7 linked regions of the Homo sapiens genome follow. The protein of the gene in region 1 purifies or fractionates together with the protein of each later gene. This does not show direct contact. Each region holds a gene or a part of one and is shown in the gene's direction. Other genes may lie near its edges.

The links.
Region 2: the proteins of ECH1 (region 1) and SLC9A6 fractionate together in Homo sapiens (co-fractionation; one large-scale study listed by BioGRID). This does not show direct contact.
Region 3: the proteins of ECH1 (region 1) and SLC25A12 purify together in Homo sapiens (co-immunoprecipitation; one large-scale study listed by IntAct). This does not show direct contact.
Region 4: the proteins of ECH1 (region 1) and NEK9 purify together in Homo sapiens (co-immunoprecipitation; one large-scale study listed by IntAct). This does not show direct contact.
Region 5: the proteins of ECH1 (region 1) and ADCK5 purify together in Homo sapiens (co-immunoprecipitation; one large-scale study listed by IntAct). This does not show direct contact.
Region 6: the proteins of ECH1 (region 1) and PGM2 fractionate together in Homo sapiens (co-fractionation; one large-scale study listed by BioGRID). This does not show direct contact.
Region 7: the proteins of ECH1 (region 1) and FAR1 purify together in Homo sapiens (co-immunoprecipitation; one large-scale study listed by IntAct). This does not show direct contact.

Annotation. Positions count from the first base shown.
Region 1 is NC_000019.10:38,825,052-38,828,849, reverse strand, and holds part of ECH1 (delta(3,5)-Delta(2,4)-dienoyl-CoA isomerase, mitochondrial precursor), read left to right. Parts: intron 1-3,798. UniProt on the Homo sapiens protein: Isomerization of 3-trans,5-cis-dienoyl-CoA to 2-trans,4-trans-dienoyl-CoA.
Region 2 is NC_000023.11:135,991,722-135,995,519, forward strand, and holds part of SLC9A6 (sodium/hydrogen exchanger 6), read left to right. Parts: intron 1-3,064; coding exon 3,065-3,264; intron 3,265-3,798. UniProt on the Homo sapiens protein: Endosomal Na(+), K(+)/H(+) antiporter. Mediates the electroneutral exchange of endosomal luminal H(+) for a cytosolic Na(+) or K(+).
Region 3 is NC_000002.12:171,891,280-171,895,605, reverse strand, and holds the start of SLC25A12 (electrogenic aspartate/glutamate antiporter SLC25A12, mitochondrial), read left to right. Parts: upstream 1-1,361; 5' UTR 1,362-1,391; coding exon 1,392-1,403; intron 1,404-2,347; coding exon 2,348-2,401; intron 2,402-4,326. UniProt on the Homo sapiens protein: Mitochondrial electrogenic aspartate/glutamate antiporter that favors efflux of aspartate and entry of glutamate and proton within the mitochondria as part of the malate-aspartate shuttle.
Region 4 is NC_000014.9:75,120,251-75,124,048, reverse strand, and holds part of NEK9 (serine/threonine-protein kinase Nek9), read left to right. Parts: coding exon 1-3; intron 4-2,874; coding exon 2,875-2,930; intron 2,931-3,468; coding exon 3,469-3,539; intron 3,540-3,798.
Region 5 is NC_000008.11:144,384,031-144,387,828, forward strand, and holds part of ADCK5 (uncharacterized aarF domain-containing protein kinase 5), read left to right. Parts: intron 1-3,798. UniProt on the Homo sapiens protein: The function of this protein is not yet clear. It is not known if it has protein kinase activity and what type of substrate it would phosphorylate (Ser, Thr or Tyr).
Region 6 is NC_000004.12:37,843,543-37,847,340, forward strand, and holds part of PGM2 (phosphopentomutase), read left to right. Parts: intron 1-821; coding exon 822-1,011; intron 1,012-2,090; coding exon 2,091-2,188; intron 2,189-3,388; coding exon 3,389-3,569; intron 3,570-3,659; coding exon 3,660-3,753; intron 3,754-3,798. UniProt on the Homo sapiens protein: Catalyzes the conversion of the nucleoside breakdown products ribose-1-phosphate and deoxyribose-1-phosphate to the corresponding 5-phosphopentoses.
Region 7 is NC_000011.10:13,667,077-13,671,636, forward strand, and holds the start of FAR1 (fatty acyl-CoA reductase 1), read left to right. Parts: upstream 1-1,591; 5' UTR 1,592-1,730; intron 1,731-4,560. UniProt on the Homo sapiens protein: Catalyzes the reduction of saturated and unsaturated C16 or C18 fatty acyl-CoA to fatty alcohols. It plays an essential role in the production of ether lipids/plasmalogens which synthesis requires fatty alcohols.

The DNA of each region.
Region 1 (3,798 bases):
GGAGATCGAGACCATCCTGGCTAACATGGTGAAACCCCATCTCTACTAAAAATAAAAAAAAAGAATATTAGCCAGGCATGGTGGCGGGCACCTTTAGTCCCAGCTACTCGGGAGGCTGAGGCAGGAGAATGGCGTGAACCTGGGAGGCAGAGGTTGCAGTGAGCCGAGATGGCGCCACTGCACTCCAGCCTGGGTGACATAGCGAGACTCCCTCTAAAAACAAAATAAAAACAAAACAAAAACTCCTTATCTTCTAATCTCAACATCTGGGTCATCTTGGGGTCAGTCTCCTTATCATCTTTTCGCTTGGAAATGGCAGGCTGGGCTCAGTGGCTCATGCCTGTAATCCCAGCACTTTGGGAAGCTGAGGTGGGTGGATCACTTGAGGTCAGGAGTTCAAGACTAGCCTGGCCAACATGGTGAAACCCCGTCTGTACTAAAAATACAAAAATTTTCCCGGCGTGGTGGTGCATGCCTGTAATCCCAGCTGCTGGAGAGCCTGAGGCAGGAGAATCGCTTGAACCCAGGAGGCAGAGGTTGCAGTGAGCCTACATCACGCCATTGCACTCCAGCCTTGGTGACAAGAGCGAGACTCTGTCTCAAAAAAAAGAAAACGGCTTCACTTTCCTGTTTCTTTGTATTTTGAGTTAGTTTGGATTGTTTCTTGGATATTGGGATATAGGAATAAGATGTGGATACTCTGGATTCTATCATATAGTTCCAAAGAGTGTTGAGTTTCGTGTTTTGGTAGCTTAGTTGGAATTAGTTTTTTTGGTTTTTCTGTTTTTATTTTTATTTTTTTGTAGAGATGAGGTCTTGCTATGTTGCCCAGTCTGGTCTTCAACTCTTGAACTCAAGCGATCCTCCTGACTCGGCCTCCCAATGTGCTGGGACTACAAGCGTGAACCACTGTGCCTGGCTTCTTGCTGATTTACAGACCATACATGCACCCCCAGCAAAAGATTTAAAAACTAATCTTCAGCCAGGGCAACACACTGAGACCTTGTCTCTAACAAAAATTAGCTGGGTGTGATGAATGACCACACTCCCAGCTACTCTGGAGGCTGAGGTGGGAGGATGGCTCGAACCAGGGAGGTCAAAACTGCAGTGAGCTGTGGTCGTGCCACTGCACCCAGCCTGGGTGACAGTGCAAGAACCCATCTCAAAACAAAAACAACAACAAAAACATACATCTCCCAGCAAGAGATTAGGGCAGAGTTGATACACAGAATTCGGGACTCCTCGCTCTGGCTCTCCCCTCTTTGGAATATCCCCCCTCACTTCCCGGCAGCTTTGGTCACCTTGGACTCTATCCTGTGGCTCTTCAAGCACAATTTCAGTCTGCCCTCAGGCTGAAAGTTTTCAAAACCATTTTCAAAAACACCGAGAGAGTGTTCTGCCACTCTCCTAAGTGGTCACTCCCTCCAGAATCTGCCCAGTGCCTTCAGATAATTGTTTGTTTCTTGTCCAGCCAGCGTATGTAGTTGTCCGTGGGAGGGTTGGCCCTTTAGGACTGAACCAGAAGCAAAATATTTCATACACTGATTTCTGCACAGGGCCCAGAGCCTGGTGCTGGGAACCCAGTCTTGACTAGGACAGTCCCAGGCCCTGTTGTCATGGCGTTCCCAACTCAGTGGGGAAGACAGACAGTAAACTATTTCTTTCTGTTTTGTCCATTAACATATTCCCAGGTCCCTTTCTTTCTTTCCCTCCCCTTTCTCCCTCCCCTCCCTCCCTCTCCTCCCTTCCTCCTTCCCCTCCCTCCCTCTCCTCCCTTCCTCCTTCCCCTCCTTCCCCTCCTTCTCCCTCTCCTCCCTGTCCTCCCTCTCCATCCTTGCTGAGGGCCCTGGTCCCTCTGGCTAAGATTAGGCCTAGATATTTGACCTGCTGTAGGCAAAGCTGGGCCTTTGACCTAGACACCTTGTACCCTTGATTAGCGAGAAAGTTCAAGAGATCTAGAGTAGCCTGCTGGCTCGAGGCTTCTGAACTGGGAGCCAAAAGTAAATCATCCATATATTGAAGGACCAGAGTGCCTGGACTTGAGAAGTGGCCTAGATCTTGGGCCAGTGCCTGACCAAACAGATGAGGCCTATCCCTAAACCCTTGGGGCAAGACCGTCCACATAATTTGGGACGTGTGGTCTGTGGGATCCTCAAAGGCAAAGAGAAACTGGGAGTCAGAGTGTAGGGGAATACAGAAGAAGGCATCCTTGAGGTCTAGAACTGTGAACCATTCTGCTGCCTCTGTTATTTGAGAGAGCAGGGTATAGGTGTTGGTTACAGCTGGATATAGAGAAATTACTGCCTCATTGATGAGTCTAAGATCTTGCACTAGTCTCCACTGACCATTTAGTTTTTGTACTCCTAGAATTGGGGTGTTGTAGGGACTGCTGCATTTCCTTACTAAGCCTGGAGCTTTTAAATGTTTAACAATATTCTGTAATCGTTTATGAGCTTCAGGCTTTAAGGGATATTGCCTTTGATAAGGAAAAGCAGTGGGATCTTTTAACCTGATTTGTAATGGGCGGGCATTTTTTGCCCTTCCAAATTGTCCTTCCAATGCCCAGACTTCAGGGTTGATTCCCTCCACAAGTAGGGGGACAACAAATGGGTAACTTGTTCCCCATATTGATGTAGATAATAGCTCCAGCCTTGGCTAATATGTCCCTGCCTAATAAGGGTGTGGAACTTTCAGGCATAATAAGAAAGGCATGTGAAAAGAGCAAAGTCTCCCAATTACAACTGAGAGGTGGGAGAAATACCTGGTTACAGGCTGTCCCAGGATTCATCGGATGGTAACAGACCTTGAGGACAGTCGTCCAGGACAGGAGATTAACACTGAGAAGGCCGCGCCAGTGTCCAGGAGGAAGTCAGTTTCCTGGCCCTCAATGGTTAAACGTACCCGGGGCTCAGTGAGGGTGATGACATGAGCTGGCGCTTGCCCCGGGCACCCTCTGTCCTGTTGTTGGATCATCTGGTTGGGGGCTTCTGACCTAGGGAACCTTCGTCCGCTGGGGCAGTGCACCTTCCAGTGATTGCCTCGGCATAGTGGACATGGACGAGGGGGCAGCTTGTTTCTCATTGGACAATCTTTTTTAAAGTGTCCTAGTAAACCGCATGATAACAAGCCCTACCGGGTGATTGGCCTCTACTATCTGTCCTCTCTGAACCACTAAGGTTTGTTAGTCTGAGGGCCATAACTAAGGCTGCGGCCTTTCTCCAATCTCACTTTTCCTTTTGGGCCTGTTCCTCTTGGTCCCTATTATAGAACACTGAGGTTGCCAGGTTTTGATAATGCCTCCAAATTTTGTTCAGGGCCCAGGGCTTGCTTTTGGAGCTTTCTCCTGATATCTGCGGCTGATTGGATAATAAACTTATCTTTTAGAATCAATTGACCCTTGAGTGATTCGGGTGACCGGGGAGTATATTTTCTTAAGGCCTCCTATAGCTGCTCGAGGAAGGCAGAAGGATTTTCTTCCTTTCCCTGAGTTATGGTGGACATCATTGAATAATTCATGGGCTTTTTCTAATTCTCCTTAGTCCTTCTAGAACACAGGTCAACAGATGTTTACGACTCCAGTCCCCATGATCTAAGTCAAGGTCCCAGTGGGGATCCATACTGGGGATGGCTTGCTGACCGATAGGGAATTTGTCCCTTTCTTCAGGTGTCATTCTATCATTTACTTGATTAAGATTCCAGGTATCTCCAAACTCTCAGGCTGCAGCTAAAGCTGCATTCTTTTCATTAAAGGCCAGGGTTTGATCTAACAGTAGCATGACATCTCTCCAAGCGAGGTCG
Region 2 (3,798 bases), on another chromosome or scaffold:
TATAGCATTTGATAGTTTTTATCACTTCCTTCTCCTCAAAAATGAATTTTTTCCCTTTCTTCCTGACTTTGCCACCACTGGTTCCTTTTTTTTTCTACTCCTGTGGGTTTTCCTTCTCAGACTCCTTCATCAGCTCCTTCTCCTCTAGCAGCCCCTTAATGTTGGCTGTTAATAGATCAAACCCCAGATCTATATCATAGTCTTCTTCCCATTTTACTTGCTCCCCTGGCGATCTCATCTACATCTGACTTCAACCATCTTATGACTGCACAGTGTATATCTCCAGTTGAGACCCCTCGCTTTAGCTCCAGATACCACATACTCAACTATGCGTGTGTCACAAGTACATCCAACTCAACGTGTCCAAAACTGAATGTAGCCTTTTCCCCTGTAAATCTGTTCATCTGTGTATGTTCCTTACCTCATTGAATGTCCTTGTTATCCCCCTCGGTGCTCAGGCCAACTTACCCACCTGGTTACCAAATCAATTAAGGTTCCTCTTAGTCTTTCATCTCCCTTCCTCAGTCACTAAATCTTCCTAAAATATAATACCTTCAAAAAATCCTTCTCGCCTCCTGTCAGTACTCTCTTAGGTTAGGACCTAAACTCTTATTGCCTGAATGCCTACAGTAGCCCTGTATCTAGCCTTTTAGACCCTCTTTAGTCTAGACCAGTCTTTCTAAAGTAGAAATCTGCTATCAAGCCTCTGCCTTCTATGACTTCATTTTACTTTTGGGATAAACTTCAAATTCCCTTCCCCAACAGATAAGATCTTTTATGATTCAACTCCTGCCAATCTTTCAAACCTCAACTCTTGTCACTTTATAAGCCAGCCATACTAAACTACTTGATTCACTGGATGGGCTGTGTTGTCTCCATCCTTGACTGATATGTACTACTATTCCCCTACGTGGAATATACCCATTTCTTCTAGTTTGTTACCTGCCCAGGTGACATCTCTGGAAAGACTTCCCTAATGTCTTACTCCCCCAGGGTTGCATAGTTGTCTCTTTTCTGTTTTTATAATACCTTGTATACATATATATATATAGCATTATGATTGTTTATTCAGTCTGTTTTCACCAACTGGACCGAGTTTTCCTTGACATTATGATTGTTTATTCAGTCTGTTTTCACCAACTGGACCGAGTTTTCCTTGAAGGAGGGACCTTGTTTTCATCTCTGAACCCTGGAGGCCTACCTAGCATAGTACACTCATTCACGTATTAAAAGAATGGCTGGCTAGTCAGAATGAAAGGCAATAGGAAGGTAAAATGCAGCTAGTAGTGGTATACTATGCATGGAGTTAAGGAAAGTTCCAGAAGTTTGGGTTTTATTTGTAGTTGAGGTATGTCCATACAATGAAATATCGTTTGGTCGTAAAAGTAAATGAGGTTCTGATGCATGCTACAACATAGATAAACCTTGAAAATATGCTAAGTGAAAGAAGTCAGACACAAAAGGCCATATATTGTAGGAGTTCATTTATATGAAATGTCTAGAAAAGACAGGTCCATAAAGAAAGAAAGTAGATGAGTGGTTGCCAGGGGCTGTGGATTCGGGCATGGGGGAATGGAGAGTGACTGCTAGTAGGTGTGGGGTTCTTTTTGGAGGGAAGGAAAATGTTCTAGAATTAGATAGTGGTGATTGATGTTCAACTTTGTGAATACACTAAAGACCACTGAATTGTACAGTTTTTAAAAGGATAAACTTTTGGTGTTTGAATTAGATATCAGTAAAGCCATTACTAAACAATTATAGTCGATCAATATAGTTTTATAGGGCTGGGCATGGTGGCTCAGGTCTGTAATCCCAGCAGTTTGGGAGGCCGAGGTGGATGGATTACAAGGTCAGGAGTTCGACCTTGGTCAGGAGCCTGGCCAACATGGTGAAACCCCATCTCTACTAAAAATACAAAAATTAGCCAGGTGTGTTGGTGTGAGCCTATAATCCCAGCTACTTGGGAGGCTGAGGCAGGATAATTGATTGGACCCGGGAGGCGGAGGTTGCAGTGAGCCGAGATCATGCCACTGCACTCCAGCCTGGGCAACAGAGCAAAATTTCGTCTCAGAAAAAAAAAAAATTTAGTTTTACAGTACCTAGAACATTGTGCATATTTGAATGTCAGTAGGATGATCCAGCAATCTGTTTGATGTCATAGTGCCAGATTCAGGACTTCTATTCCATGTTTTGATTTTGAAGCAGATTTTTAAAATTAAAATCTGATCTTTTAGAAGTAGAAGAACTCAATCAACCTACAAATATTATTGACTTTTCAATTTGTTAAATGTGCATTGTTTGGCCAGTCATGTGCTTTGGGAATAAACTTGCGAAGTGCATTGTTTAAGTCTTATAAATTGATGAATGGAGGTGAAAAACAAATTTCTTTTTTTTTTTTTTTGAGACAGGGTTTCACTTTGTTGCCCAGGCTGGAGTGAAGTGGCATGATCTCGGCTCACTGCAACCTCTGCCTCCTGGGTTAAAGCAATTCTCACACCTCAGCCTCCTGAGTAGCTGGGATTACAGGCGCCCGCCACCACGCCCGGCTGATTTTTTGTATCTTAGTAGAGTTGGGGTTTCACCAAGTTTCCCAGGCTGGTCTCGAACTTCTGAGCTCTCAGGCAATCCACCCATCTCGGCCTCCCAAAGTGCTAAGATTACAGGCATGAGCCACCGCGCCTGGCCAGAAAACACATTTCTAACACGATTGCACTGTCGAGTTGGGACACATTGGAGCATATTCTGTCTACAGATGATTTGAAGATATTTTCTCCTTTTGTTACCTTCCTCATTACTTATTTAAATATTGATCTAGAAATGCAGTGATCTGTGCTGTTGTCCTAGGGAATGTTTTTCTCTCCTGTTTCACTGGATTATATGAAGATTGGGCTGTTTGTTGTATGAATTTAGTAATATTTTAAAACATAACTGCATTTCATCTAAAAATCAGTTCTGAGCTACAGGGAACTACCGTAAGAGATTTTCTCTTATCCATAGTTATGCGTGGGGTACAAAAGAAGTGGTCTCTGTCGGCAAGAAGAGCTTATGTTGTTCTTTTTTCCAGGTCTTTTGGTGGGCCTTGTGCTTCGGTATGGCATTCATGTTCCGAGTGATGTAAATAATGTGACCCTGAGCTGTGAAGTGCAGTCAAGTCCAACTACCTTACTGGTAAATGTTAGTGGAAAATTTTATGAGTATATGCTGAAAGGAGAGATTAGTTCACATGAACTCAATAATGTTCAAGATAATGAAATGCTTAGAAAGGTAAGTTCTTAAAGGAAATCTTTGAATCTTTTTTGTGTCTAACTAGCAGCAAAATGATCCAGGAGAAAATAAGTAATGGATTTTTAATGATATTTAAAATAATGAGTCTTTTTCAATGGAGTAAAACCTCAATTAACAAATGTAATAATGTAAGGAAATGGATATGTCTGTACAACTCATTTTCTGATTGAGGTTAAGTAGTATAACTCTTTTTGTTTCTCTCTGGATTGTTTACAGCTTGTTGTGATAAATGGAGACTGGGATTGAGTTAAGCAGAATTTATAAGCGTTTCTTTCCATTTGCAGATGGTCCTTATAGTTTTCTTTTTCTTTTTCTTTCTTTATTTTATTTTTTCTGAGATGGAGTCTCACTCTGTCACCCAGGTAGAGTGCAGTGGCATGATCTTGGCTCACTGCAGCCTCTGTCTCCTGGGTTCAAGCAATTCTCCTGCCTCAGCCTCCCGTGTAGCTGGGATTACAGGCATCCACCACCACACCCGGCTGATTTTTGTATTTTTTAGTAGAGACGGGGTTC
Region 3 (4,326 bases), on another chromosome or scaffold:
GGTTGCAGTGAGCCAAGATGGCGCCACTGCACTCCAGCCTGGGCGATAGAGCGAGACTCCGTCTCAAAAAATTAAAAATGAAAACATACACAGGGTCGGGCGCGGTGGCTCACGCCTGTAATCCCAGCACTTTGGGAAGCCGAGGTGGGCGGATCACCAGAGGTCAGAAGTTTGAGACAAACCTGGCCAACATAGTGAAACCCTGTCTCTACTAAAAATACAAAAAATTAACTGGGCATTGCGGCGGGTGCCTGTAATCCCAGCTACTCGGGAGGCCAAGGCAAGAGAATCTCTTGAACCTGGGAGGTGGACGTTGCAGTGAGTCAAGATGGTGCCACTGCACTCCAGCCTGGGCGACAGAGCGAGACTCAGTCTCAACACACACACACACAGACACACATACACACAATACACATGTGATTGGGGTTGTGGAGAAGCATTGACCATCTGTAAGCCCCTAGAGGGTGGGGGCTATAGGTTATTTGCGTTTTTTACAAGCAGGACCATGTCAGGCATATAATGGATGCCCATACATGTTTGAATCAATATGTAGCCTAATACAGTGATATTGGCAAGACGGGTTTAGAAACATTGTTTTGGTTCAAGATAGAGTTACTGCTTCTTCTACTTCTTAGGTAGGGCTAGAAATCGAATGGAGAATTACTTTCTGTTCATGTATGGGCAAGCGATTCATTGCCAGCCCTGTCAAAGACACATAGAGTTTTTTTTCTCATTGCACACAGGATTTGGGTGATTAGGAAAGTGGAGCGAGTCTACTAATAAACCGTTGTAATAGCACGCAAAGCAAAAATAAATTCAGCGTATTCGTCCCATGCCAATTTAGGAGCATATTTCTCAAATTATGTTTACGTAGGTTTTCCCTAGAGTGAGTGGTTCCCAATCTTGTTTTGTCGGTATTTGCCATCAGTTGTCATTAATTCATTGTTATTAATGGGAAGTGCTCTTTGATCCGTCGGAACCTTGCTCAGTATAGGCCCCAAATGTTCCTTTAAGCCTCGGGGAAAACGACTTTGGCTGGTCGGTGCCCAAAGCCACACCCACTAAGAGGCCTTAGGAAACCTGGGGCTTTCCTGGCGGCGACCTAGCTGTGGCAACCACGCGGCGCGTCGGGATCCCATGGGTCGCGCTTGTTTTCCCCGTGGGAGGCGCGTCCCCCTCCTCCGCCCGGCCGGCCGGCCCTGGACCAGCTGCCTTTCTGGCCGGGACGCCGGGCCCCTTTCCGCACGCGGCGCGCCCCGAGTTCATTTGCATAGGGACGCGCGCGGCGCCGGCGAGAGGGAGGGCGGGCGCGGCCGGGAAGACGGCGCGCGCGCGCCCTGACAGCTCGGCCCTGCTCGCTCACTCGCTCGTCCCCGGCTTCCGAGCACAGCATGGCGGTCAAGGTGACTCCAACTCTCTGCTGCTGCTTTTATTGCATAAGAGACATTCCGAGCGCCCTGCCTGCAGCCCCCCACTGCTTCCCATTTTATTCATTGTCTAGGTCTTAGATAGCTTGTCCTGGGGCTCCGGCTTGCTGCGGGGAGAGCTGTGCGGGGCTTGGACCGGAGGAGGGGATGCCCGGCTGGGGGAGGGGAAGGAGGAGGGATTGTGAGTTGAAGGGGCTTGTACGGTAACACGGGTCAGTGAAGGAAGAGTAATGTCCTGTCCTAGGTGCATGGGATTGTGAGTCCGGAGTTGGAGGGCATCAGAAAGGGTGTGGGAGGAAGTGGCAAGTAAAGCTGGGGATACCTAGGGTATCAGTGAATTGCGGTGGGGGAGGGAGTAAGTATTGAGTAATTTGGGGCCTCAATAAGGCCGAGGGCAGTGGTTGGCTTTTGCGTTGCAGATTGCAGGGTATGGAAAGTATTTGTATTTGTGGCAGCTCTCATATTTTAGGTTGGATGGGGAGAGGGACGCGGAGATAATTACATGTTGGGTTTGCTTTTTATGGAGAAAGGCTGCTAGGCCAAGTGATTAATTTGGGTGATTTAACTTTCCTGTTGATCTACTCTTGTTAGCTTCTTGATTTGAAGGTGGGTGGTTACTACTGTGTTGCTAGTAGATGTGGAATAAAGTAAAAGATCCTCATTGCCTTCCCTTTCCAGTCCAGAGGAAGCACTGTCCGATAGCTTTGCTGTATCTTAGGCTATTCGCACCTGTTTTTCTGCCCTCTAGTCACAGTTATCCAGTTTGACAGTTCTTATCAGCAATTAGGGCTTTTAGTTTGTTTTAAACTAAATGATAAAAGATAGGAGCATTGATTGTTAGCCATGTGACCTCTAATCTGAAGAGATTGTGTGGTCTCTAGTGAAGCATTAACTGGCTTTTTTTTCTTTTTTGCTTACAGGTGCAGACAACTAAGCGAGGGGATCCTCATGAGTTAAGAAACATATTTCTACAGGTAAATTGGCTTGCATAGTGTGCCTTTCATTGCAAAAACAAAAAACGTACATGTCCTTAGTCCTATTCATGCCTTAACTTTGAGGAATGTTCAGTTTTCATGTATTCTTTCAAACATGACCGGACAATATAGCTTATACTTCTCTTAATAAGGTTTGATTTAAGGCCTTCTTTTAATTAAGGGTCGATAAAAGGTTTTCCTCAAGTTACTGCTTTTTTTTTTACATGACTTAAGATATATATTTTGAAAAAAAATTTCCAGCTTAAGCACAGAGACCAAGATAAAATTTCAAAATGTATTGGCATTCTTGTATAGTTAATAGGTATGATGACTAAAATTCTCTTCCTTGAAAGTTGCATGTTTACAAAGTTTTCCTACTTATGAGCTATCCTCCATGTAATTTGTTACAGAGATAAGAATATTATAGCTATTCTTAATTTGTGTGTCTTACTTACATTGTATCCTTAAGCCTTGGGGATTTTACCCCAAAATGTTACCTCTTAAGATTCTTGCAATGGTCTACCTTAACTTCTAAGCTTTTAGAATCAGTGACTTGGCTGTAGACTTAAAAAGAAAAGAAAAAAGAAAAAAAAAAGGTTGGCTTAGTTTTTTGTTTTGCTTTCTTTTCTTAAATTTCAAAAGTTTCCTATGCAGGAAATTGTACTTAAGAAGTAGATGTAGGCCGGGCGCGGTGGCTCACGCCTGTAATTCCAGTATTTTGGGAGGCCGAGGCGGGTGGACCATGAGGTCAGGAGATCGAGACCATCCTGGCTAACACGGTGAAACCCCGTCTCTACTAAAAATACAAAAAATTAGCCGGGCGTGGTGGTGGGCGCCTGTAGTCCCAGCTACTCGGGAGGCTGAGGCAGGAGAATGGCGTTAACCCGGGAAGCGGAGCTTGCAGTGAGTCGAGATCGTGCCACTGCACTCCAGCCTGGGGACAGAGAGACACTGTCTCAAAAAAAAAAAAAAGTAGATGTAAAGGGAGGCAAGCTAAGGTGTTTCACCAAATATTGCATTTCTCTCTGAAATCTTTTGAGAACTTTCTATTCTGGACCTGGGTTCTTATGAAGACACTTTGACCTTGGGCAGGTCCCTGCTGTGTATTATTTTCCTCTGTGAAATGAGAGGTGATCTCCAAGGTTCCTTCCCATTCCAAAAGTCTATGAGTCTATTTTAGGAACAGATTCTAACATATGCTGATGAGCCTGGAATAGATGACATTTTTATTTGAGATATGTGGTTTGCTTAAGCTATTGTTGGGTAAGACGCTGCGTAGTTGAGCATACATATGTGTAGTTTATGAAAAATAATTTGTGAAAATGGGAATCTTAAAGGTCATAATATCTGATAAGGGAAGTATTTTTTTCCAGAACAGAAGTAATTATAATAACAGAAATGGTCCATTTATGACTTGAAACCTTTATTCCTTGCAGGCATTCTTGAAAATAGCCAAAAATATATCGGTATTCACCATACCATGTGATTATAGTCAATTGTTTTGTGAAGAGTTCATGTGATATAGTTAATTTTATGTTCTAGACTAAGTAGATGCGGAAGAAATGAGTTGAAATGCTGCATGATGTAGTGAAAAGAATACTGCCTAGGTATCTGAGTACTGCCTAGGAATACGGAGTTAATTCCCAGCCCTGCATTTATCTGGTTCTTGTACCCTTAGGCTAATCATCTGGCCTTCCTGAGTTTCAGCTTCTCATGTGGGACTCAGTGGGACATAAAGGAATGGGAATTGAGGTCTTTCTAGCTTTAAAAATTCTATGGGAAAAAAATATACTGTGATTCTGTATGGATTTGTTTTTTGTTTTTGAGTGGGGGTAGAGGTGGGTTGGAGGTATGAGGAGAATGGCGAGGACTGTCCCTAGCTCTTTGACAACTTTTTTTTTTTTTTGAGATGGAGTCTCGCTCTG
Region 4 (3,798 bases), on another chromosome or scaffold:
ATGGTAAGATAGAGTTCAGTGGGACTTTTCCAGCAAGACTTTCTTAGACTCATAATTACGTTGAGGAGAAGAATATAAGAAGAGACATATACAGTGATAAAAACTTTAAATGAATTTCTAGAGTTTAAGAGAAACTTTTCAGGCCTTGGAGAATTTTTGAAGTGGTGTACGAAATAAGGAGAGGGATTTTCCCCTGCATACCCAAATTTTCTCTTGTGATTACAGTTCCATTTTCAAACTATCTTTTCTTTGGTTGGATTTTACCTTTATTTTTCAAGGTTTTTCTTTATGAAATGACATTAGTTAACCAGAGTGTGGCTTGGCAGCACTTGATACAGTATTTAATAAGATCTTATAGGTGATATTTATTTATATTGTCTTCAGCTAAAGCTATCCTATTGAAAAGTGGTCCAAAGATCATAACTGAGTGAAAGTAATATATAGTAAAGCATGGCCCTATTTATCTGGTCCCTGATTTCTTCACATCATTTTGCTTGTAAGATAGCAATATAGCCTAGTTGTTAAGAAAATAGACTCTAAAACCAAGTTTCTCTACTTTCTAGCTCTATAACCTTGGCAAGAAACTTAACTTCTCTGTGCCTCAGTTTCCTCATTTTATTTTTATTATTATTATTATTTTTTTTGAGATGGAGTTTTACTCTTGTTGGAGTAAAGGCTGGAGTGCAATGGTGCCATCTTGGCTCACCACAACCTCCGCCTCCTGGGTTCAAGCAATTCTCCTGCCTCAGCCTCCCAAGTAGCTGGGATTACAGGCATGCGCCACCACGCCCAGCTAATTTTTGTATTTTTAGTAGAGACAGGGTTTTGCCACGTTGGCCAGACTGGTCTCGAACTCCTGACCTTAGGTGATCCGCCCACCTCCGCCTCCCAAAGTGCTGGGATTACAGGCTTAAGCCACCATGCCCAGCAGTTTTGTCATTTTAAAATGAGTTTGTTGGCCAGGGACAGTGCACACCTGTAATCCCAGCGCTTTGAGAAGCCAAGACAAGCAGATCACTTGAGCATAGGAGTTTGAGGAAAGCCTAGGCAACATAGTGAAACCCTGTCACTACCAAAAATACAAAAAATTAGCTGGGTGGTGTGCACCTGTAGTCACAGCTACTTGGGAGGCTGAGGAGGGAGGATGGCTTGAGACTGGGAGGCAGAGGTTGCAGTGAGCTTGTGAGCTCAGACCGCTGCACTCCAGCCTGGGCGATGGAGCCAGACCCTGTCTCAAAAAAAAAAAAAAAAAAAAAAAAGCTGGGCGTGGTGGCTCACGCCTGTAATCCCAACACTTTGGGAGGATCACAAGGTCAGGAGATCGAGACCATCCTGGCCAACATGGTTAAACCCAGTCTCTACTAAAAATAACAAAAATTAGCTGTGCATGGTGGCGCGTGCCTGTAATCCCAGCTACTCGGGAGGCTGAGGCAGGAGAATCGCTTGAACCAGGGAGTTGGAGGTTGCAGTGAGTGGAGATCATGCCACTGCAGCCTGGTGACAGAGCGAGACTCCATCTCAAAAAAAAAAAGTTTGTTGATAACAGTACCTACTTTCTAGGATTGTTGTATTACATGCATAGTGCTTGGTAGGTAGAAAGTGTTTGCTACATACTGTACTAGCTGTTAATCATCTTATTGCACAGGAGAACCTCCAAAGCCCTTTTCTGAACTGCATGCTAAAGAGGTCCCAGCATATTCGTCACTTACGACTTCCTTGTGTAAACTCTTGTATATTATGATCATTGGTGATCAATGCCATATACAAGATTCTGTTAAAAATTTTCGAAGTAGCAGAAGCCCTAGGTAGTTAACTTCTTTTGTGGTTAGGAAGAACTGGAACAAATGATACATTTATTGAAACTGAGTTATTAAGTTGCAGGGGAAAAGAAGTTGTAAAAACTTACCCAGGGCTAAAGTGTAAGTTATAGTTGCAGGTGGGATGTAAGATGAACCATGATTACTTGCAGTCTGTATTACTTGGTAAAGGAAAGAGAGAAGTAAATTCACACTTATTCCACAGGAAGAAATTAGTAAAGAGAGTAATGATAGGAAACAGTCTAGGGGTAGACCCTAAATTTTGGGAAATATTTCGGTGTGAAGTAGAAAATTTGTCAATATATACCCTATAAATACAAAACATTGCATCACAGGTGTAACCCAATTTTTTTCTTTTTTTCCTGAGATAGACTCTCACTGTCACCCAGCCTGGAGTGCAGTGGTGCGATCCCAGCTCACTGCAACCTCCGCCTCCCAGGCTCAGGCGATCCTCCCACGCTCAGGCGACCCTCCCACCTTAGCCTCCTGATTAGCTGGGACCACAGGCACATGCCCCAACAGCTGGCTAACTTTTTGTATTTTTGGTAGAGACAAGGGTTTTGCCGTGTTGCCCAGGCTGGTCTTAAATTCCCAAACCCAAATGATTTGCCCACCTCAGCCTCCCAAAGTGCTGGGATTATAGGCGTGAGCCAATGTGCCCAGCCTAATCCAGATGTTATAGTAGTCACAACTGGGAGAGTTGTTACAAAAATATTGTAGAGTCCTTAAAGGAGAGTTCTAGAAAAGAAATCTGATTTTGAATATACTTCACTTGTTGGGAACAACAAGAATGGTCTTTACTCACATCTTTTCTAAAAATGTCTTTTTTTTAATTACGCCTCTTGTGTTAGAGAGGGAGATCTTTGAAGAATATTTCTGATGCGGTCCTTGAGAGATGGGAAGAGTTTTGTGCCCATGTGAAAAGTCAAAAGAAGTAGTTGCCTATGGAGAGAAAGCAGAATCCTTCATTTCCTTGTGTCACCTAAAAAAACCTGTTACAGGAGCCAAGCTTTGATCTGTATTAAGCAATTCAAATCTGTGTCTTGTTTAATTGCAGGAGGGAACCTGTATGACAAAATCCTTCGTCAGAAGGACAAGTTGTTTGAGGAAGAGGTAATTCATATTTCTGTGGAAGGAAGTTAGAATTGTAGTGTTGTAATTCTTGCATTCTAGTTCTGTATTTACTCTTCCAATAGTGAAGAGTGTTTTTTTCCTTTTGTTCAGACTCCTTCCAGGCTCTGATATTCATGAGAAAGGAAACCTCTAACAAGGAAGCTGTCTATAGCTGCTTCCTAAACGTTTTACCTCCACATCATGATTCTCTGTGGGCTTTCTTTCCTGGTTCTATTACTGCGTACTGGTATGCCCAGTTTTCTATAACTTTGCATTCTTCCTGAATTTTCCTACATGTCTGCTTTACCATACTATATATTATAATGACATTGGAACTATTTTATGAGGAACCTGTTTTTTGTGGTTTTTTACCCCTTCACTTTTCTTTGCCTACTCAACCTGCAAGGAAGAGATGTCAAGTCATGTTGAATCATAACTTCTGGTTGCAGTTTTCTTTGTTTTGTTTGTTTATGTGTGTGTGTATTTACTTAAATGGAGCTTTTTGTTTCTAATCCAAATATTTATTTTTTCTCTGCAGATGGTGGTGTGGTACCTATTTCAGATTGTTTCAGCAGTGAGCTGCATCCATAAAGCTGGAATCCTTCATAGGTAAGAAGTAAAAAAAATTATGGATGGATTCTTCCCTACCAATTCAGCCCCTACCGTGGATACCCCCCCAACAACACTTTTATTTTCTTGGTTAAGCAGCCAAGAGTTTTTCCATTGATATCACTAGGAAAGGAAAGTAATGAGCAATATTATTTTCACTCCCTGAGGTTAAACCATGTTTATGATCTAGGAAGAGTCTCCTCAGTAGCCAAGTACTACTGAAGTCATTTTACAGACAAAAATTTTAGAGTTCAGTTTG
Region 5 (3,798 bases), on another chromosome or scaffold:
ACAGGTGCCCACCACCATGCCTGGCTAAATTATTTATTTATTTATTTATTTATTTAGTATTTTTAGTAGAAACGGGGTTTCACTGTGTTAGCCAGGATGGTCTCGATCTCCTGACCTCGTGATCCACCCGCCTCGGCCTCCCAAAGTGCTGGGATGACAGGCGTGAGTCACCGTGCCCAGCCCCCAAAGCCCTTTTGAATGGAGCGTCAGGGCAGGAAGGAGGCAGGGAGGGTGTGGTCCTGTTCTGCCTGCCTCCGAGCATCTGCCAGGCCTAGGTCAGTTTCTCAGCAAGTGCCTCGGCTTCTGGTGCCTTCAGAGATTTCACCAGAAGTTTCACAGAAATTTCCTCCAGCAGTGAGTGGAAGCTTGTGGATAGCTGGGCACCTGAGGATTTTCAGCCTAAAAGACAAAACAGTCGTTCCCCACGTGGGTCTCCCTGGCATCTGGTTTTGCTTGGAGTTCCTGCTGTCCCTGCCTGCAGATTTTGGGTGGCATTGTCTGTCTTGCAGGGCCATCCAGTCTCGCAGCCTGGGGTGGGTGACGACAGAGCCTCGGGTCCTCTGCCTTTTTCTCGTGACCCTCCGCTGCAGTGCATGCAAGGGCCACACAGGGCTGCCAGCCACCGTCCCCTGCAGCCTGGTTCTGAAATGTCGGCTTGGCAGGCCTGGGTTTGTCTCACCCTCTATTTCATGGCATGCAGCTGTGTCTGGTGTCCACCTCCTCGGCCACCGGCTTGGTGAGCCTGCGTTTTGGGCTCACTTTGTGGGAAAACATCTTCTCACAGCTCGCTCTCAGGGGCTGAGCTGGGGTTGCAGGGAGGGACCTCTGTTGTTAATTTTCCCAGCAGTCTGCACGTTCTCCTTGGCTCTAAGCCGTCACGGTTGCATAGACAAGCAGGCCTGTGGAGCTTCCCTGGCAGGGCACAGGGTAGCCTGGGAACACATCCTGGGTGACAGCAGCACCCATGCAGGGGCCCAGGAAGGAGCGCGGGTGAGGAGCATGGCGGTGCCAGTGCACCATGAGAAAAGGCAGCAGAGGTCAGAACAGGCCACAGGTACCCAAATGATCAGGGGCTGCCCAGGAAGGTGGAAGGTTTGGGACAATGTTTCTCTGCCTCAGAGCCCTGTCTTTAATCTCTGCCACTCCTTACATTTTCTTTTTTTTTTTTTTTTGAGACGGAGTCTTGCTCTGTCACCCAGGGTGGAGTGCAGTGGTGCGATCTCAGCTCACTGCAACCTGTGCTCCCTTGGTTTAAGCGACTCTCCTGTCTCGCCTCCCAAGCAGCTGGGATTTCGGGTGTGTGGCACCACGCCCGGCTAGTTTTTGTATTTTTAGTAGAGACAGGGTTTCGTCATGTTGGACAGGCTGGTCTCCAACTCTTGACCTCAGGTGAACTGCTCAGCTCGGCCTCTCAAAGTGCTGGGATTACAGGTGTGAGCCACCACACCTGGCCCTAAACTTAAATCACCACCAGGCGCGGTGGCTCACGCCTGTAATCCCAGCTACTTTGAGAGGCTGAGGCAGGGGAATCACTTGAACCTGGGAGGCGGAGGTTGCAGTGAACCAAGATCACGCCATTGCACTCCAGCCTGGAAGACAGAGCCAGACCCGTCTCAAAAAATAAAAATAAAAAATAAAATCACCTATATGTGGCCGGGCATGGTGGCTCACGCCTGTAATCCCAGAACTTTGGGAGGCCGAGGTGGGTGGATCACGAGGTCAGGAGATCGAGACCATCCTGGCTAACATGGTGAAACCCCGTCTCTACTAAAAAATACAAAAAATTAGCCGGGCTTGGTGGCGGTTGCCTGTAGTCCCAGCTACTTGGGAGGCTGAGGCAGGAGAATGGCGTGAACCCGGGAGGCGGAGCTTGCAGTGAGCCAAGATCACGCCACTGCACTCTAGCCTGGGTGACAGAGCGACTCTCTGTCTCAAAAAAAAAAAAAATCACCTATGTGTTTTGCTTTCCCCCACCGCCCCTTTTTCTTTTATTTTTTGGAGACAGTCTCACTCTGTTGCCCAGGCTGGAGTGCAGTGGCTTCGTCTCAGCTCACTGCAACCTCCATATCCCAGGTTCAAGCAATTCTCATGCTTCGGCCTCCCGAGTAGCTGGGACTACAGGTGTGCGCGCCACCATGCCCGGCTAATTTTTTATATTTTTAGTAGAGATGGGGTTTTGCCATGATGCCCAGGCTGGTCTTGAACTCCTGAGTTCAGGTGATCCGTTTGCCTCAGCCTCCCAAATGGCTGGGATTACAGGTGTGAGCTATCATACCTGAACTAAATTTAACTTTTTTTTTAAAATTTTTTAATTTTTTATTTAACTTATTTTTTTTTATTTTTTGAGATGGAGTTTCGCTCTTGCTGCCCAGGCTGGAGTGCAATGGTGGGATCTCGGCTCACTGCAACCTCCATCTCCCGGGTTCAAGCGATTCTCCTGTCTTAGCCTTCTGAGTAGCTGGAATTACAGGTGCCCACCATCACGCCCGGCTAATTTTTGTATTTTCAGTAGCAATAGGGTTTCATCATGTTGGCCAGGCTGGTCTTGAACTGCTGACCTCAAGTGATCTGCCCGCCTCGGACTCCCAAAGTGCTGGGATTACAGGCATGAGCCACCACGCAGGCCATGCCTGGAGTTTTTGTTGGGGTATTAATACTTGGGCGGGATTGATTGAAAATCTCCAGTTTCTCAGAAAATCCCAGGAATTCAGTTTCCAGCCCCGGTCCTCCCGCTCCCATCCCCGTGGGCCCCAAAGTGGTGGGTCTTCGCCCTGAGTCCCTTCTTAGCATAAGCCCTCAGGGCCACCATGGAAAACAGAGGCACTCCTTATCACTCAGGAAATCCCAAGGACTTAAGAAGGGACAAAGGTCAGTCCTCTGTTTGGGTAAAGTTAATTCTTCATTGCACATGATTGGACACCTTTGAAGATTACAGGCTTGTAAGTATTGTATAACAAGAGTCAGCAAACTGTGGTCCCTGGGCCAAGTGCAGGGGCCTAGTGTGGCAGCTGTCTGATTTGCAAATAAAGCTTTATTGGAACACAGCCATGCCCATGCATTGCCTGTGACCACTTGGTGCACAGTTGCCCATGTGCTCATGCGTGGCCAGAGTGCCTAAAATAATTACCATCTCATCTTTTACAGAAATATTTCACTGCTTCTTATTTTGTCAGTGTGGGTTTGTCTGATGTTTGCTTGTGGTCATATTCGTCATCTGTTTTGGCAGGAATCACACAGGAGTGACACTGCTTCTGTCCTGCCGGGGGCACATGATTTCGGTTTCCCCCATTTGATTCCCTTGTAATTAGCCGTATGGAGGCAGTTGAGATGATGTGTCTGTTCTCACTGCTCCTCCACCCAGCAGTTTGTTTGTTTCTTTATTTATTTATTGAGACAGTCTTGCTCTGTCACTCAGGCTGGAGTACAGTGGCAACATCTTGGCTCACTTCAGCCTCTGCCTCCTGGGTTCAAGCAATTCTCCCAGCCCCAGTCTCCCCAGTAGCTGGGATTACAGACACCTGCCACCACACCCAGCTAATTTTTTTTTAATTTTTAGTAGAGATGGGGTTTCTCCATGTTGGCCAAGCTGGTCTTGAATTCCTGACCTTAAGTGATCCATCTGTCTCAGCCTCCCAAAGTGCTGGGATTATAGGCATGAGCCACTGCGCCTGGCCTCCACCCAGCAGTTTAGCACTCATTGATACTTTTTTTTTTTTTTGAGACAGAGTTTCACTCTTGTTGCCCAGGCTGGAGTGCAATGGTGGGATCTCCGCTCACTGCAACCTCCACCTCCTGGAT
Region 6 (3,798 bases), on another chromosome or scaffold:
GTCATGGCATGGTATCAAACAGGATTGTTACTTGGCAAACAAAAAGTTTTATTTATTTATTATTATTATTTTTTTTTTTTTCCTGAGACGGAGTTTCGCTCTTGTTGCCCAGGTTGGAATGCAGTGGCACAATCTCGGCTCACTGCAACCTCCACCTCCCAGGTTCAAGCGATTCTCTTGCCTCAGCCTCCCAAGTATCTGGGATTACAGGCATGCACCACCATGCCCAGCTAATTTTGTATTTTTAGTAGAGATGGGGTTTCTCTGTGTTGGTCAGGCTGGTTTTGAACTCCTGACCTCACACGATCCACCTGCCTCGGCCTCCCAAAGTAAAAGTTTTATTTTTTATATCTTTATGTATGGGATAACCCAACACATTTTGTTAAAAAGGACATTTTGAAAATCATTTCTGAAGCTGATAAAAGACATTTGGGAACCTGTCGCTTTGGGGATGTGTGGGTGTGTGGAGCCCTGGAACTGTCCCGGGCTGGCTGTAGCACTGTCAGGGCACCTGTCAGGCCAGCAGTGAGTCTCGTGTGGGAACATGAGCTTGAGGTTCTTCTTTGTATCTCACTCTAGATGGGATGCATAAAACAAAACCTGAAATAATCAGATTTGCTGAAAATAACTACAGAGTAGAATTTAAAACTTGAGTATGTTGAGGGAAGGAATATATATATCTGGGAGAGAATGGATACGTTTTGTTTTTCTGAAATGGAATTAGAAAGATGTTCAGTTGTCTTGTGCATTCTTGCAAACCTTGCAGTTTTGAGAGCCCTGTTTCTGCCTTGTATCATTTTCCACTGTGTATCTGATTCTAGGAGCGTGAACAGGGAGACAAAGGTGAAGTTTGTGCACACCTCTGTCCATGGGGTGGGTCATAGCTTTGTGCAGTCAGCTTTCAAGGCTTTTGACCTTGTTCCTCCTGAGGCTGTTCCTGAACAGAAAGATCCGGATCCTGAGTTTCCAACAGTGAAATACCCGAATCCCGAAGAGGGGAAAGGTGTCTTGGTAACCTAATTTTTTTTTAAATTATGAAATCTGCTTTTATATTCAAAACTATTACTGTCAAGTAAAATACATTTTTATGTGTTTTCATTGTGCTGAAGAAAAACTAATTTCAGCATGGAAATATGTATGTTTGGCTGGGTGCAGCGTCTCATGTCTGTAATCCCAGCACTTTGGGAGACCAAGGCAGGCAGATCACTTGAGGTCAGGTGTTCGAGAACAGCCTGGCCAACATGGCAAAACCCTGTCTCTACTAAAAATACAAAAATTAGCTGGGTGTGGTGGTACATGCCTGTAATCCCAGCCACTTGGGAGGCTGAGGCGCTAGAATTGTTTGAACCTGAGAGATGGAGGTTGCAGTGAGCTGAGATTGCACCACTGCACTCCAGCCTGGGTGACAGGGTGACAGAGCGAGACTTTGTCTCAAAAAAAAAAAAAAAAAAAACAAGAAGTATGTATATTTGTTAGTCATTAATTTCTTAAAGGATCTTTCAAATTAAACACCCCAGGATCAGGATATGAGAACTGAGCTCTAAATGGTGCTTCAAATTCAGTTAATTTAATTTAATTTAATTTGCCGTGTCTCCTTAATGCCAAAAAGAAGCAGTAATAGAGTGAAACTTTAGCAGGTTATGATTTTTATTTCTTGTCATTTTTCTGATATGAAGTGTTGCTTACATTATGGTTTCTGTAACATTTTTAAAGGTTGGGGTAGCAGTGGCATTCAGAGAATCAGTTTATTTTGTTTTATTTGTGAGGCTGATCACACAGCAATGCCCCGAAATACCAGTCCAACCACAGACCTACTGGCGCATGTGCAGCAGGCACACTGGTAGGCTTGGGTCACACACCGATGCTCCCATTATCTGACCTCTGACTTAGGAAGATACTATGTGACCAACCAAGACCAGCTGCAGCTTTTGTTTGCTAAATTTCACTTCTGGAGCTGTCTTGGTTGGTCCTATATTATCTTTCTAAGAGGGGAAAGACCTCTTGAGTTCTTAAGGAACTGAATGTTTTTAAAGACTATCATATGCTCGATTCTTGATTAAATAATCTTTTATTTTCATATTCTTCTTCAGACTTTGTCTTTTGCTTTGGCTGACAAAACCAAGGCCAGAATTGTTTTAGCTAACGACCCGGATGCTGATAGACTTGCTGTGGCAGAAAAGCAAGACAGGTAAAATTAATTGTGATTACCTATATTATAGAACATATAAAGGATGATCTCTTCATTGGTAAAATGTTTCTGGGGAGACGGGACCTATTTGGAAACATTTCCCATTTATTTTGCAAATGATCATTTCACTGAACCTCCTGTAGAGTCTTCTAATGGAGAGCAAGATAGAGATCTAGTGTGGGGGGAGGTTACGTGATTGGCAAGCATAATGCAGAGTAAATCAACCCAGTATATATTTCAAATTGAAACTCCTATTTGGGAACTTCTCATTTTGTAATTGATCTTTTTATAAGTAATGTCTCAGTGTCTAATGAGGGTAAAGCACTTTGGTGCTAGCTGTATGCTTCAGTATTTGCTGAGGGGTTTAGGAGGGAGCAGTACCTTCAAGGAGATGCTGAATTTAGTTTGGACAGACCAGGGAGGAATTCCTGTGGGGTATCGGCACAGTGTTTAAGACAAGTCTGACCAGAGAGTTTGTACAAAGGAGAAGTAAGTACGTGGGGCTAAAGTTGAAAGGTAGGCAGGGCCCAAGCAATTTTGGGCGTCAGGTAGCCTATGTGATGTTTTGGGGGCAGGAGGGTGCTGCTGCTGAAATGGTAGGGTTTTCAGATTGTGATAAAACAGGTTCCATTCTATATCAGTGTTGAGAAAGTTAAGCTAAGATGATACGTCCTGATAGGTGAGATTTACTTCTAGCCATCTGGACTGCCAAGAGAAGCAGAAATTACACATCTTTTCTCTGATGTTCTGACCATTTAGGACTGAGCTTGATCTTAAGGGGTACTGAGCTGTCCCCTCTCAGAATCAGCAATACTGACCAGTCCAGAAATTGAGATAGCAAAACTTACTCTATATATGGGGGATCTTGCCAGCATATTTGTTATATTTAAAACCAAAGGCTTTGCCAAAGATTAATATAGAGCCATTGTGTGTCATGTGTGACATACTTATTTTATACAGTCTTCAAAGACAGGATGTCTGTTCAGGCAAACTGGCTGATATATATGGTAGCTGCTCAGATGTTTGTAAAATGGCAGTTACATTTCTGACCAGTTATTTAAAGATGATGAATAACAAGAACAGCCTTGCAGAAAATACTTAGATGCTTTGTTTGCTAAATTGTTTTATCCCCATGACACTTTAGAGTCTTCCTTAAGATTATGGAAATGAATGGTGGTTGTTGTTTTTTTTTTCTTTCAGTGGTGAATGGAGGGTGTTTTCAGGCAATGAGTTGGGGGCCCTCCTGGGCTGGTGGCTTTTTACATCTTGGAAAGAGAAGAACCAGGATCGCAGTGCTCTCAAAGACACGTACATGTTGTCCAGCACCGTCTCCTCCAAAATCTTGCGGGCCATTGCCTTAAAGGAAGGTTTTCATTTTGAGGTAGGGTGTTTCTGGGACTCACTCATTTTCCTTTCATCTGCTCTGTAGAAGATCTAAGGCATGTCTTTCTCTTTTGGATTATCCCTTTAGGAAACATTAACTGGCTTTAAGTGGATGGGAAACAGAGCCAAACAGCTAATAGACCAGGGGAAAACTGTTTTATTTGCATTTGAAGAAGCTATTGGTAAGAAGTGATCATGAACATTAAGGAATTGGCTGCAAGGCAAAA
Region 7 (4,560 bases), on another chromosome or scaffold:
ACTTAATGACTAAATTAATAAATATGAATACTGTAATCTTTGTTTTGTTGCTTGTGTTCTTTTACAGATTAGAATTTGGTCCATAGTTCTTACGTTTGTTTTGGGAGAATATTTTGACCCACTTCTAAGAAGTGTTTCACCTGATCCTGGCTATTTATGACTATGGCTATTGGACTGGATGGGTTCCAGGCATACACTGTCTTGCCTAAAGTAGCGGAATGCGACATCCCTGAGGGTAAGCAAGTGTGTTAGCTTTGTGTTCTGTGCCCTCCTCCAGAAATGACAGTACTTGCTGCAAGACTGTGAGCTCATCGAGGCAGAAGCCATGGCATTCAAATTAGTTTCCTGAGCCAGAACTTAACATCTGCCACAAAGTAGGCAGTTCAGTGAGCTTTTGTAGTTTCCAACTGGATGCAGCACTATGACTGCTTTTAGCTACTAACAGGGCCAGGCACTGAAACAAGCTCTAAATCCCCACAGAAAAATCACTCTGAGCCATCCATCCCTAAATACCAACCTGTGCATGCTATTCACCGTGCCAAGAGCGTTCACTCATTTTTGCTTCTCACAAATCTTTTTTTTTCTTCCTATGGCTTGCATGTTTTGAATGACAGCTAAATCCTAATGCGGACTGTTTATACAATGGAGTCCCACGGAGCCCAAAGATTGTGGTAATATTATTACAGAATTCTCATGATCCTTTTATTATTTTTTAAAAATGAGCCGTATGAATGTGGTAATACTATTAAGTGTCCGGCTCGATGAATTCCTCCATGTGTACACAGCCCGGAACGACCACCAGGATCAAGACGCAATGTTTCCAGCTTTCCATAGGTTCCCTCGTGCCCCACCCCTCAGAAGTAAACGTTATTCTAACTCCTATCACTACCGGTAAGTTTTGTAGGGAATTATTTTGGAGGAAGTGGAAGGTGGAATGAATGGGCCCACAGTCCCCTGGGACTGGGCGAGACCCGTGGAGGCTCCAGGGGTCCGTAGAGCTCTTCGCTCTCACCGACCCGGGCCACACCCGCCAAGCTGGTAGTTCTCCGAACGGATCCCTCACGCCCAGCAATGGCCGGAGGGCCCCCGGGCCCCACCATAATAGCGCTAAGCACGCCACAATGGCAGCCCCGCTGTCTCCCGCGCGGGCCTCGCTGCGTGCTCCCAACCTTGGGAGTTGGCGCCCCTCCCGCGCGACGGACAGCCGGGCGTGGCCCTGGGCGCGACCCGACAGGACGCCAGCAGCCGGCGGGGGCGCTCCAGGACTCGAGATGTGGGGCGCGGGCCCATTGGCTGAGCATTCCCCCGCGAGCCTCCCGGCCGCAGGGCCCACCTCCCGGCCCTCTCTCCGCGCCCCCATTGGCCGTTCGCGTTCCGCGGGCGTCCGCTCCCGCCCCACTCCCGCCCGGAGGGAAACCGGGTTGGGGGTGAGAGGCTAAAGCAGGGAGGAGGATGACTGGTCCTGCGGATAAGGGTGTGCGCGAGAGCCAATCAAAAGCGGATGTCGAAAAGAGGCGCCGCTCCAGCCAGTCACGTCGCGAGGTGCGGTCGGGGCCGGCTGACGCGACTGCGGGCCTCAGCCAATGGGCGTGCCACTGCCCGTCCGCTCTTCAGCAGCCGGTCGCGGGCGGTGGAAAAGCGAGTGAAGAGAGCGCGACGGCGGCGGCGGCGGCGGCGCAGCTATTGCTGGACGGCCAGTGGGAGAGCGAGGCCTGAGCCTCTGCGTCTAGGTGAGAAGGGGGTGCGCCAGCGGGAGCGGCCGGGCTGCGGGCTCCTCCTCGCCTGGCTCGGGAAGTGGTTGCGGGAGCTCGGGCTGCAGGCCTGGCCGAGGCGGGGGCGCCGACCAGCCGTCCCGCCCCCGCCCCCGCCCGGGTACGCCCAGAAGTGAGGGCGCCCGCCTCACCCCGGGTGGTCTCTGCCCCTCTTTGCCCCGCCGCCGCCCTTCACAGGGCCGGGACCGCGTGGGGGACGTACGGTGGGGCCTGGTTTGCAGCCGCGGAGCCCGGGGAGCCGCCTGGGGTGGGAGGCCGCTAGAGGTGGCGAAGGTGGGGCGGGGTGGTTAGCCGAGCAGCGGGCTCCGCGTGCTCGCGGGAGGGTAGCGGCAAAGGGAGGCCTAGTGATTGCAGGATTCCGGGTCTGGGGAGGAAGAAAGTGGTGGGAAATAGGTGATGCTCAGAAAAGGGTGCTGAGGGAGAAGGCGCGGGGCCGGGGAGTGTGGTTGGCCTATTAGAAGTAAGGATTGATAGGGCCTGGGTGGAGATCAGCTGGGAGTGAAGGGGGGACGGGCTTGGGTTTTGAAGGTGAAGGTCTCTGGAGAACTGGGGACACGTGGATCTGGAGTAAGAGGCACCTACTGAAACCGGAAGGTGGCTGAGAAGGTTTTATGTGAGGTGTGGACGGGAGGCTATTGGACTAGAAGGCATTAGTTGGTCTGTTAGGACAAAGTATACAAGCAGCAAACGCGGTAGATTTATGTGTGGTAGGTGAAGGCTGTGAATCTTTTATGAGTAGTTGAGCAAGAACAGTTGTCTGATTCTGCGGTGTCGGAGAGTGGAGGGTCTCAGGTAGTGTCTTGGTCAGGTTTGAAGGTTAATTTACTGCTAGTGGAGGGCCAAATACTCAAAAGAGTTTTTAATTCTCACTACTGGGGCTGATCCTCCTCCTACACTCCACCCCTCCTGCCATCCCTGTGACAGTTCATCTCGTTTTGCCTCAGCAGCACAAGAACTCACTCCCTCCGAAGTAATGGCATACATATTGTTTGCTTTTGACTAGATGGCAGTCAGGAATCCCTTAATTCTTTATGTTAAAAAAAAAAGTGTTGGTTTAAAGACAACATCAGAAGATACTCTCAGAAAATCTGCCCTCCAGGGGAGTTTCTCAGCTGTCATGTTGGGCATGTGTAATATAGCATAAAAATGATGCAAGATCTCTTACAGTAATACAAGTGAGAATTAACGTATAAGTACAATCCTGATGTATTTTTTTCAAATTAATTTAAAAAGTAAACAGAGACAGGGTTTGCTGTCGCCCAGGCTGGAGTGCAGTGGCGAGATCATAGCTCGTTCCAGCCTCAAACTCCTCGGCCCAAGAGATCTTTCCACCGTGGCCTCTCAAAGGCTTGGGATTACAGGGGTGAGCCACCCCACCCAGGCCCTGTTATTCCATACATTTTCCATAAAATTATTTTATAATTTTTGTTTTGTTTTGTTTTTATTTTATAAATTTGTGTGTGTGTGTCTCGCTTTGTTGCCCAGGCTGGAGTGCAGTGACGCGATCTTGGCTCGCTGCAACCTCCACCTCCCAGGTTCAAGTGATCAGCTCTTGCCTCAGCCTCTCGAGTAGTTGGGACTACAGAGACATGCCCCACCGCACCGGCTAATTTTTGTATTTTTAGTAGAGGCGGGGTTTCACCATATTGGCCAGGCTGGTCTCGAACCCCTGACTTCAAGAGATCCATCCGCCTCGGCCTCCCAAAGTGCTGGGATTACAGGCGTTAGCTGCCGCGCCGGCCAAAATTATTCCATAAATTTATCCATAAAAATTCCACATAAATTTTCTGGAGTTTGATTATGTATTAGGCTTGTTGGGAAATTTATTACCCTTGTGAAGAATTTTGTAGCTAAGTAGCTTGAGGGTTTTTTTTTTTTTTTCACTCAGGAAAGACATGGTATGTATGCATCACTGCTATTCTATTTGAAGCTTTTGGAATTTTTATTTATGGGGTGTGGATAGAGGCTGGAGGCAGAGACTGAGGTCAGAGAAGAGGTAGTAGAAAAGAAGGTGGCCCACTACCATATTTCCAGTGTATTTAAATGGGAGATAGAGTTTCTGTTTGAGGATAGGACAAAAGGTTTGTGAAGAGTTATAGAGTCAAGGACAGAAGCCAAAGAGAGCATTTGCTGTGTAACATGTTTGCTTGTTAACCAGATCAGCAAAGCATTTTAACTAATGGACCATTATTTATGATCTAGAAACAATTTTGTGAAAGCGATTTCTTAGTGATGCTGTTTACTGTGATCACATTTGCCCTTAGTATAACAATACCTAAGTGCTGAGGCGACTTGCAGTAGAGAAGTAATCTGAGTGGCGTGGAGTGAATCAGGGAAGGTTTCCTGAAAGAGGTGAGTTTTGAGCCATCATGTGAACTAGAAGTTGGGATGTGGGTTATTACAAGACATGAGGATGACATTCCAGTAGTTTGTACTTGGTATAAGCAACTGTGGACAAGAGTGACAAATTAAAAATGGTTTTTAAGGATGATTGAAGATTCGAATGAAGATTTAGGGGTTTGGAAATCAACCAAGGCTATGTTGCAGCTTAGCTGATAAATAATTTTTTATGTTGGTTAGGAGAGAAAATTAACAGTTGATAATGGATTGGAGATAGGTAGTAAAGGAAAGAGCATAAAATATTTGATAGTTATAGGAGAATGAAGTGAAAGTAAGGTTATTGAGAGGTAGGTTTAACAGTCAACCATATATCATAAGTTGGAAACATTTTTGAGTCCTGTGCTAGAGTATATTGATAATAATAGCAAAATTTATTGGGTGCTACTTT